Linked DNA regions of Homo sapiens: region 1 is linked to region 2. A link means that fine-mapping ties the variant in region 2 to the plasma level of a protein whose gene starts in the linked region. Region 2 holds a variant in brackets. A gene starts in the other region. All regions are shown on their forward strands.

What was found. PIP is the posterior inclusion probability: the model's chance that the variant is causal. The UK Biobank Pharma Proteomics Project read protein levels with antibody pairs (Olink). The fine-mapping took linkage between variants from a reference panel, not from the people measured, so its PIPs are less certain.
Region 1: it holds the start of ADGRF5, and the variant in region 2 is fine-mapped to the plasma level of the ADGRF5 protein (UK Biobank, PIP 0.99).

Annotation. Positions count from the first base shown.
Region 1 is chr6:46,919,973-46,924,365 of GRCh38, forward strand. It overlaps ADGRF5 (adhesion G protein-coupled receptor F5), which reads right to left and starts at 1,966. Exons shown (of 21, transcript NM_001098518.2): 1 at 1,741-1,966. LOC105375080 (a long non-coding RNA gene) reads left to right here and starts at 2,107. Exons shown (of 3, transcript XR_001744147.2): 1 at 2,107-2,463.
Region 2 is chr1:236,041,744-236,046,136 of GRCh38, forward strand. It overlaps NID1 (nidogen 1), which reads right to left. Exons shown (of 20, transcript NM_002508.3): 3 at 3,714-3,940; 4 at 167-549. Among named protein-coding and RNA genes, the nearest start is that of NID1, 21 kb to the right of the region's middle. The variant C/A (reference allele first, on the strand shown) is at 1,702.

The sequences.
Region 1 (4,393 bases), not on the chromosome of region 2:
GCCACCTTTTTACAGAAGACTAAAAGAGATGGAAAATGAACCGATCTGTTAAATGCATTTATTATCCACTGAATAAAAGGGCAATCTCTCCTGTCTTCACTCTACGTTCTCTGGGCCACTTTATCTATCAATCTAGCTATTATCTATCTAGTTAATTTCCTGTTATTTTATCTTCTCCCCTTTCATTTCTAGAATAAGAAACTTCTGATGCCCTTCAAGGGAAAAGCCCAAACCACTAATTGGCAAATCTAGAATTTAATCCTTAGGAGGTTGTTACTAATATTATTAATTGTCAAAGCCAAAACCAACACAAAATAGTAATGGTAAAAATGAGTAAAACTCTTTATACTTTTCTAAGAGTTAAAAGAGCTATTCATGTTTCCCATGTATCATTTTATCTTTCACTGAGAGGAAGGAGTTTAGGATAAATCACAAGAACTTGACAATGAGAATTTATTGTACTCCTGTGCCCCGGCTTGTCCTATAGAGCTCAGAAGAACAGAAAATAAAGCCTTTAACTGGTAACACAGAAAACAATTGATAGAATAATATTTGGGGGGGGGGAAGAGAGTGTATATTGGGGGTGCAATTGAAAACTGTTAACAGAAAGCTGGCTGCGATGGCTGACACCCGTAATTCCAGCATTTTGGGAGGCCGAGGCAGGTGGATCACCTGAGGTCAGGAGTTCGAGACCAACCTGGCTAACATGGTGAAACCCCATCTCTACTAAAAATACAAAAATTAGCAGGGTGTGGTGGCGGGTGCCTGTAATCCCAGCTGCTTGGGAGGTTGAGGCAGGAGGATCGTTTGAACCCGGGAGGCAGAGGTTGTAGTGAACCAAGATCGTGCCACTGCACTCCAACCTGGGCGACAGAGCAAGACTCCATCTCAAAAAAATAAAAATAAAAATAAAATCTATTTAGAGATATTCTTTTACGATAAGAATATAGTCAAGTATTATCTGTGTAATTCAAAAATAACCTACATTGAAAAACCAACTACGTTAGCCCTTTATGAAAGAAAAAATGCTGTAGTGAAGTGGCATGACCTGGCTTTCTGAAATATGAGAAAACATGGTTTAAGCAAACCGCACATCATAGAGTTGCTCCTTTCAAAACAAGTCGGCCTGGCCCTGAAGCCCCAGCACTTTTACTGACCTCCTTCCTAATGCTGACTACAAACTCCTTTCCCCTCAGTCCTGTGTGGGAGGCTGCAGCCTACATTTTACATTTCTAAGGTCATCCCTTGTCCTTTGGAAGGACTCTCCCGAAGCTGAGCGAATAGCCAGGGCTCCCTCCTCCTGCTACTGGGATGCAGCCTCTTCCTTCCTCAGCCTGACCACAGCAATGGCCGACTGGCCCTGAAATGCTCTTGGCAAGAGCAGCAGCTCAGTAGCTCATGAATGCACTGGTTTTTATAGTATTTTCTGGTTTAAGGACGAGAGAACTTGTTTGAAAAAAAAAAAGTCTGTTATTAAGAAAATCCTAAAGGATCCCAGCTAGTTGCTTGATACGCCATCTCCTTTAATATAGTCTCATTAACTGGACCAACAGTATGCACAATGCTCTTGACTGGACATACTTAACTTTCCCAACATACATATCACACCTACGCAAAAGAAAAGCAGGCAAAGAGGATCGTAAGTGGAAGATGTCTTAAGAGAAGTGACTTAGGAGCCCCTGAGGTCTTGCTACAAAGGGAGACAGAATGACAGACCGCAGTAGGAGAAATGTCTGTTACCTGTCCAGCACTGTGGTCCCCCGGCTGGCTCCCGCTCTGATCAGATGCCTAAAAGCTTCCCAGTTTCCACTATGGGGCCATTTGTCCTGGGCCTCCTGGGCAGGGGCTCTCACGCCCAGTGGAGGGAGAACCAAGCAAGACTCATTTCGCGTTTTCAGGCAGGACTGGCAGCACCGCTCCCACGCTCAGCCTCCCCCAGCTATGATCCTCCCAGTCTCACAGAGTCATCCCTGAGAGCCGCGCTGCTGTTTTAAAAACAAAAAGTGATTTCCTGGTCCTCTTCCCCGGATGGCGTGTGCGATTTCCCTCACGCCCATGGGAAGTCCTTCAGATCCTTCTTATCTGGAAACCTCTCCACCAAGTGGACAGACTTGTTTGGCCAATGCCCCTAGTTCTCACTTTTCTTTCTCCAAAGAAAAAAATCAGAAAAGCAAAACCAGAGCAAACCAAACATAGGTTAGAGCTAATGAGAAGTACAGGATGTCTGGTTTCAACTTTTAAAAGATGACCACTAAATTAGATTGTAACTTCAGAGAGGAAGGAAAATTAAGACTATCGATGAATTCTTTGTCTTTAGCAGTGCCAAGAAAGCAGAGAAAAAAAGAATCCGCAGAAGAGAAGAGACCTAGAGAAGTTGCTTAGTCCTCCCCCGCGGGAGGGCTGTACCTCAAAAATGCCATATTGGAGGGACGTCCAGTTCTCCTAGGTTTCCAGGGAAACTCTGTGAGTATTTGTGTATCAAACTATAAATTTAGTGGTACTTAAAATACCGCTCAATAGCATGGATATTTAAAGATAAGGAGATATATGGTAAAGGCCTGGTTGGCAGGCTGCATCCAGGTTGCTGGGTTTAAAGATGAATTATAGTCAGCTCATTTTTGAACTGGAAGTGACCTCACTGATCCTCATTTTACAAAAGAGGAAACTGAGGCCCAAGGAGAACCCTTCCCAAGGTCAGAACACGGATGGGGAATGCTGTTTGACTCTCTACTCTGGAGCTCTGCCCACAGAAAGTTTGATGAATGAGGCCTGGCTTGGAATCGGCATTGGAAATAAGTGCTTCGGGTGAGTCCCATGCAGGTAGTCCCAAGAGTATCTTCAGGGAATTCCTCATAGTGTCAAAGAAAGGACTCTGGAGTCAGACTGTAGGAACTGATGCTTTAGTCCCACCAATTATATGTGGCCGGGTACACATTACTTGACCCTATTGAGATTCAGTGTTGTTTTGTTTTTAGACGGAGTCTCGCTCTGTCTCCCAGGCTAGAGTCCAGTGGCGCGATCTTGGCTCACTGCAACCTCTGCCTCCTGGGTTCAAGCGATTCTCCTGCCTCAGCTTTCCCAGTAGCTGGGACTGTAGGTGCCTACCAGCACATCTGGCTAATTTTTGTATTTTTAATAGAGACAGGGTCTCTCCATGTTGGCCAGGCTGGTCTCAAACTCCTGACCTCAGGTAATCCCCAGCCTCGGCCTCCCAAAGTGCTGGGATTACAGGCGTGAGCCACTGCTCCTGGCCCTGAGATTCAGTTTTATTGTGTGTGAAAGTGGGATAATAATAGTACTGAGTTTATAGACTCTGCTGAAACTGAAGAGGAAGAGTTTAGTAACTGTTTGTTGTTCTCTGGAGCCCTGGGCTCCAATGCCTCCAAGTTCATCCTCTCTCCCCTCCAGCTGCCTTCCCTTCTTGTCATGCTATCAGCCTGTAGCAAGTCAGCAACCACCAGCAGGACTTAGGCTTGAGACCAGAGTATTTGGGCAAGAAGAGGATGAACTCCAAAATGTTATTATTCCACTTCTAGATAATGATTCTCAACTGTAGTCTACACGTTAGATTGGATACACCCTAACTTAAAAAGAGCCTGCTGAGGGATGCAGTTCCTGGGCAAATGCTGCCTTTTTTCCTGCTCGTATTTTGGTTGTTGGGTGCAGCAGGCTGTCTAACATGGAATGGGCGTTGTCAAAGTGGCTGTCCCTTTCCTTCCCTGAGGAGCAATTCTTCTCGCCCACAGTTCCCTGCTTGTTGTTAGGAACACTATGTGCTTGCTGCACACACATTACAATGAAAACAAAAGCAAATAAAAAATGCAACCACCATATGGCCTCAGCGGCAACCCAGAATGAACTGTGGATGGAGAGACCCTGCCCTGTCGTAGCTACGGCTGGAATTGACTGTCACAGCAGCCGTTTTCTTGAATTCTAAAACGTTGGTGTTGGTGGCTGAACCCAAATTTCTTGAACCCAACTGCAAACGTAGAGAGAATAATTTACCAGTCATGTTATCACTTTGTTAATATGAAATGTCTCTCATGGCTGTAAGGTACAGTCTCATTAGAGACAAAGCTCCTACTTTCTCAGGAAGAAATTTCAGCACCAAATAAATACATATTTTCCAGCATGTTCCCAGCTGTTTCACTTCTGCCCTTCTTTCACTCTGCCCTTCTCCTTTCTTCACACAGGTAACGTTTAGTCTCTTTTTAAGTTCCAGGTGTTATTTCTTCCAAGGACCCTCCTATTTCTCCCAGCCTGAGCCAAGTATTTCTTCTCCCTGATCCCACACTGCCAGATGCATGTCTTTTTGAAGTTACCACACTGCATTCAAACAATCCATCTAATGCATTGACTGTAAGCACCTTGAAGGCAGGCACTAGTCTTATTT
Region 2 (4,393 bases):
ATAACACCAAGGCTCCACGGCTGTGAGAGTTCAGCCTCTACTTTCCCAAGCTCTTATCTTTACAAACCACCATGTAATGCTCACAACTGACATCTCCCCAGCAGTACGCCTGTCTGGAAGCCCACACATCCAAGATCGTTACCAACTGCAACTTAAATGGTCTTACCAACTCCTGTTTCCTCAACTTCATCCACATCTATGACCTGAGGGTGCTGCTGGTGAAAAGTCTCCACTGCCAACTGGAAAGACCTGGTTCTCTCTGTGGGAGGTCCAAGGGGCCTTTCGGTAGCTGCCCGGCGCGGGGAGAGGACGCTGGGCACACTGTATGTGTCAGCACCTCCCCTTCTCAGAGCCTTGTAGGAGAAGGGCGTGGTGCCCACATCCTCCAGGCCCAGACGAGTGGTCGCCAGGTCATAATCTTCATCCTCATCATCATACTCTGCCCCATCTTCAGTTCCGAGGATCACGTCTGCAGGCACCACGCCATTGGTGGTGGCTGGACTCCCAATCTCAAACACCCAGACACCCTGCTGCCCAGAGTTACTACTCCTAGGAGGAAGGACAGGCTTCTTAGAAACAGGCCAGCAACCCACCAACAGCCACCACTACCCAAGCAGAGGGAGCCCTGAGGATCTGTGTTGGTCTGCAAGCCATCACCTGCAGCTAGGACTGGAGAGTGGAAGGGCACTGGCCGTCATGTCTGGGCGTCATGTGGCTGAGGCAGTCTAGGGCTGTCTGGTGAGACTGTGTCCAAATGGGCACAATACTAGCACAAGCTCAGTCCCAGCCATTCCAGAAGTGTGCTCCAGGGACACTATCAGGACTTAAAATTCAACTTGCTCATCCTAATTGCTGGTTACATGCTCTACCTTATGAGCTAAGGTGGCTCATAGGACTGACAGTGGCTTTAGGACTGAAGTCATTCATGCTCTCCACTATCTCTTTCCATGACATGGTATGATACAATTGAAAATACATGTTTGGTCTCTGTCCTCACATTCTGAAACAAGAGCTCCTACAGCCTTTGGAATTTCTGAAGTGATAAGAGTGTCTTTTGTAGGCTAATGAGTTGACTGATGGCTGGGAGCTCCTAGACAGTTTCAGGATGGGGGCTGGTGGCCAGAAAGACCAAGGCATGATTAGAAGGTTGGAATGTCCAGCTTTCCCCACTGCCTCCAGGGAGGGGAGATGGGCTGGAGATTGAGTCAATCACCAAGGATCAGTGATTTAATCAACTGTGCCTATGAAATAACACCACCATAAAAACCCTAAAATGATGGGGTTCAGAGAGCTTCTGGGTTGAACACATCAAGGTGCGGGAAGGCTGGTGTACTCAGAGACGGCATAGAAACCCTGCCCCCTTACCCATACCTTGTCCTATGCCTCTCTTCCATTTGGTTGTTCCAGAGTTGTATCCTTTAGAATGAACTGGTAATAGTGAAGCATTTTTCTGTGTTATGTGAGCCATTCTAGCAAATTATCAAATCTGAGGAGCATGCCATGGAAACCCTCCATTTATAGCTGGTTGGTCAGAAGTACAGGTGGAAACACAGGACTTGGGACTGGCATCTGAAGTGGGGGCAGTCCTGTGGGACTGAGCCCTTAACCTGTGGGGTCTGCAGTAACGCCAGTGCTAGAATTGAACTGAAGTGTAGGACACCCGGCTGGTGTGCAGAGAATTGGTTGGTGTGGGAAAAAAAA[C/A]CCCACCCATTTGGTGTCAGAAGTGTGAGTGAAAACATTGCAGACGTGGTTTTTTAGAAATCCCAACTCCAGGGCCGGGCGCGGTGGCTCACACCTGTAATCCCAGCACTTTGGGGGGCTGAGGAGGGCAGATCATGAGGTCAGGAGATCGAGACCATCCTGGCTAACATGGTGAAACCCCGTCTCTACTAAAAATACAAAAAATTAGCTGGGCGTGGTGGTGGGCGCCTGTAGTCCCAGCTGCTCGGGACGCTGAAGCAGGAGAATGGCGTGAACCCGGGAGGCAGAGCTTGCAGTGAGCCAAGATCGTGCCACTGCACTCCAGCCTGGGCGACAGAGCAAGACTCCATCTCAAAACAACAACAAAAACAACAAAAAAAGAAATCCCAACTCCATTGGCTGTGAGATCTTGGACTAGTCTCAGTTTACCTTTGGTGCTTAAAGGATATGGTGAAAAGCAAATGAGATACAAAATCCAAAAGCATTTTATAACTATAAAATATAGTAGAATATCCCTAATCTCTACTTCTTCCTCCACCATTTTTACCATTCTTCTGTGTCTGTGATTGGAAGTGCTCCTATCAGAAATTACATGAAATAATTATATTATACGGTGGACAGAGGGGACATACATTACTCAGTGGAAAATACTGAGCAAAACAATGGGGTGGGGTGGGGATGATAAATCACAAAAGTCCTGCATAAATAGGATGTCTAATCAATTTGTCTGCCTGGGATTCAAGTAAAGACAGTGGTGTGTGGGAGCTTATATGGACTAGCTTGTGAGAGCTGGCTGTTAAAGTTTTAGGAATTTTGCAAGCCAGTTATTAAACACAGCCATTCTAAACAATTAAATTACATGAACTTCCAATTAAACAAGTTATATTTTTTAAAAGGAAAAAATATTCAAAACTCATCATATTCTAATCCTTTTGCTACTGTCCATGCTCTTGAAATTATATATATTAAACCTATTTTATCTTTATGGTGAGAATATATATAATGGTGCATGTTTTCTGAACTCTTCAATGAGTGACATGACGTTAATAACTTGAACTTGGCCATCGTAGGAGTATTTACATCACAGAAACAGGCAAACGCTATAAATCAGGTTCCTCTGCCCTCATAAAACCAGTTGTTAAGCATTTACCAGCACATCACTAAGTGAAGGGCAGAGGAATTCAAGCTAGATTTGAAGATATAAAATTAAAAGGTGGTTTTAGGGGATTCACTCTTGGTTTTTAAAGAATAATGGGAGAGGAAAGGTTTTAATCTTCAAAATCCAATTTGGGCTTTTCCCTCTTTTGTCAAATTCTACAACATAACCTGAGAGCACCATTTCTGTTGTAAGAATATTCCCCCTAGTCAATGTGAAGGAAAAGGTTTTCTCAGCCTTGAGATCAAAGGAGATAGGTTTGAATAACCCTTATTTCTAACAGTGTTTATAGACAAAATGGTAAAAACTGTCTTAAGGCCGGGCGCGGCACTTCATGCCTGTAATCCCAGCACTTTGGGAGGCTGAGGTGGGCAGATCACCCGAGGGCAGGAGTTCAAGACCAGCCTGGCCAACATGGTGAAACCCCGTCTCTACTAAAAATACAAGAATTAGCTGGGCATGGTGGCACACACCTGTAATCCCAGCTACTTGGGAAGCTGAGGCGAGAGAATCACTTGAACCTGGGAGGCAGAGGTTGCAGTGAGTCGAGATTGTGCCATTGCACTCCAGCCTTCCAGCTTGGGCAACAGAGTAAGGCTCTGTCTCAAAAAAAAAAAAAAAAAAAAAAAAAAGAACTATTTTAAATGAGGATGATATCTAAAAAATAGGATATCTGTTCATTCTAAAAATACATTTCCTTAAGTTCATCAGAAAAAGAGTATCTCATAATATAAAAACTATATGCAAAACTTAAATCCATAGGAACATTTTTAGGTAATGATCTATAATACACATTACATTATCCACATTAAAAAATATTAAGAGGAGAATCTACTGAAGAACAAAGAAAGCATACTTGGCCAAATTTTCAACTGATTCCCTGTCATTAGCAAATATGTTATAAGCTCCGTTGCTCTTCCATAAGAATCCCACTGAACCTTGACTGAATGCAACCACGGCAGGAACTTGGTTGTTTTCCTTCTTTGAGAATGTCGTATGGAACTGCAGACCATCCTCAGGATAAAGGAAAATGGCATAGGAGCTGGAATCAGAGGAGGCTAGAACAGCCTGGAACGTGTTTCTCTGTGAAGATGAGTTAAAATTCAGTTACTCGGAAAAATATCGATAGATTTTAAAATGTGTTATTCGCCAGACTATCTATAAAGCGTACAGTGCTATAGAGCGATGGCAATATTCTCACCTTATTCTAAAAGAAGGACTTTTGTAGCAAGAACCTAGGATTCTGGGATAGTTCCACTGAAATATCCCTAAGGCTATGTCAACATGACATTTTCTGATTAATTCATAAATATCTTCTGCATAACTGTGGCCCTAAGGTTAACCAAAAATTATACAGATGGTACCTCCAGATGGTGGCCTAAAATCTCACGCAGTTTAGGAAATTCTTACCCAAAGACTTTGTTTCCATGGCTGTTAACATATTCAACCGCATTCATCGTTTAACAAACATTTATTGAACCCAAGCACCGTACAGTAGAAAAAACAAAACAAAACATGAGATTTGGGAGAAAACAG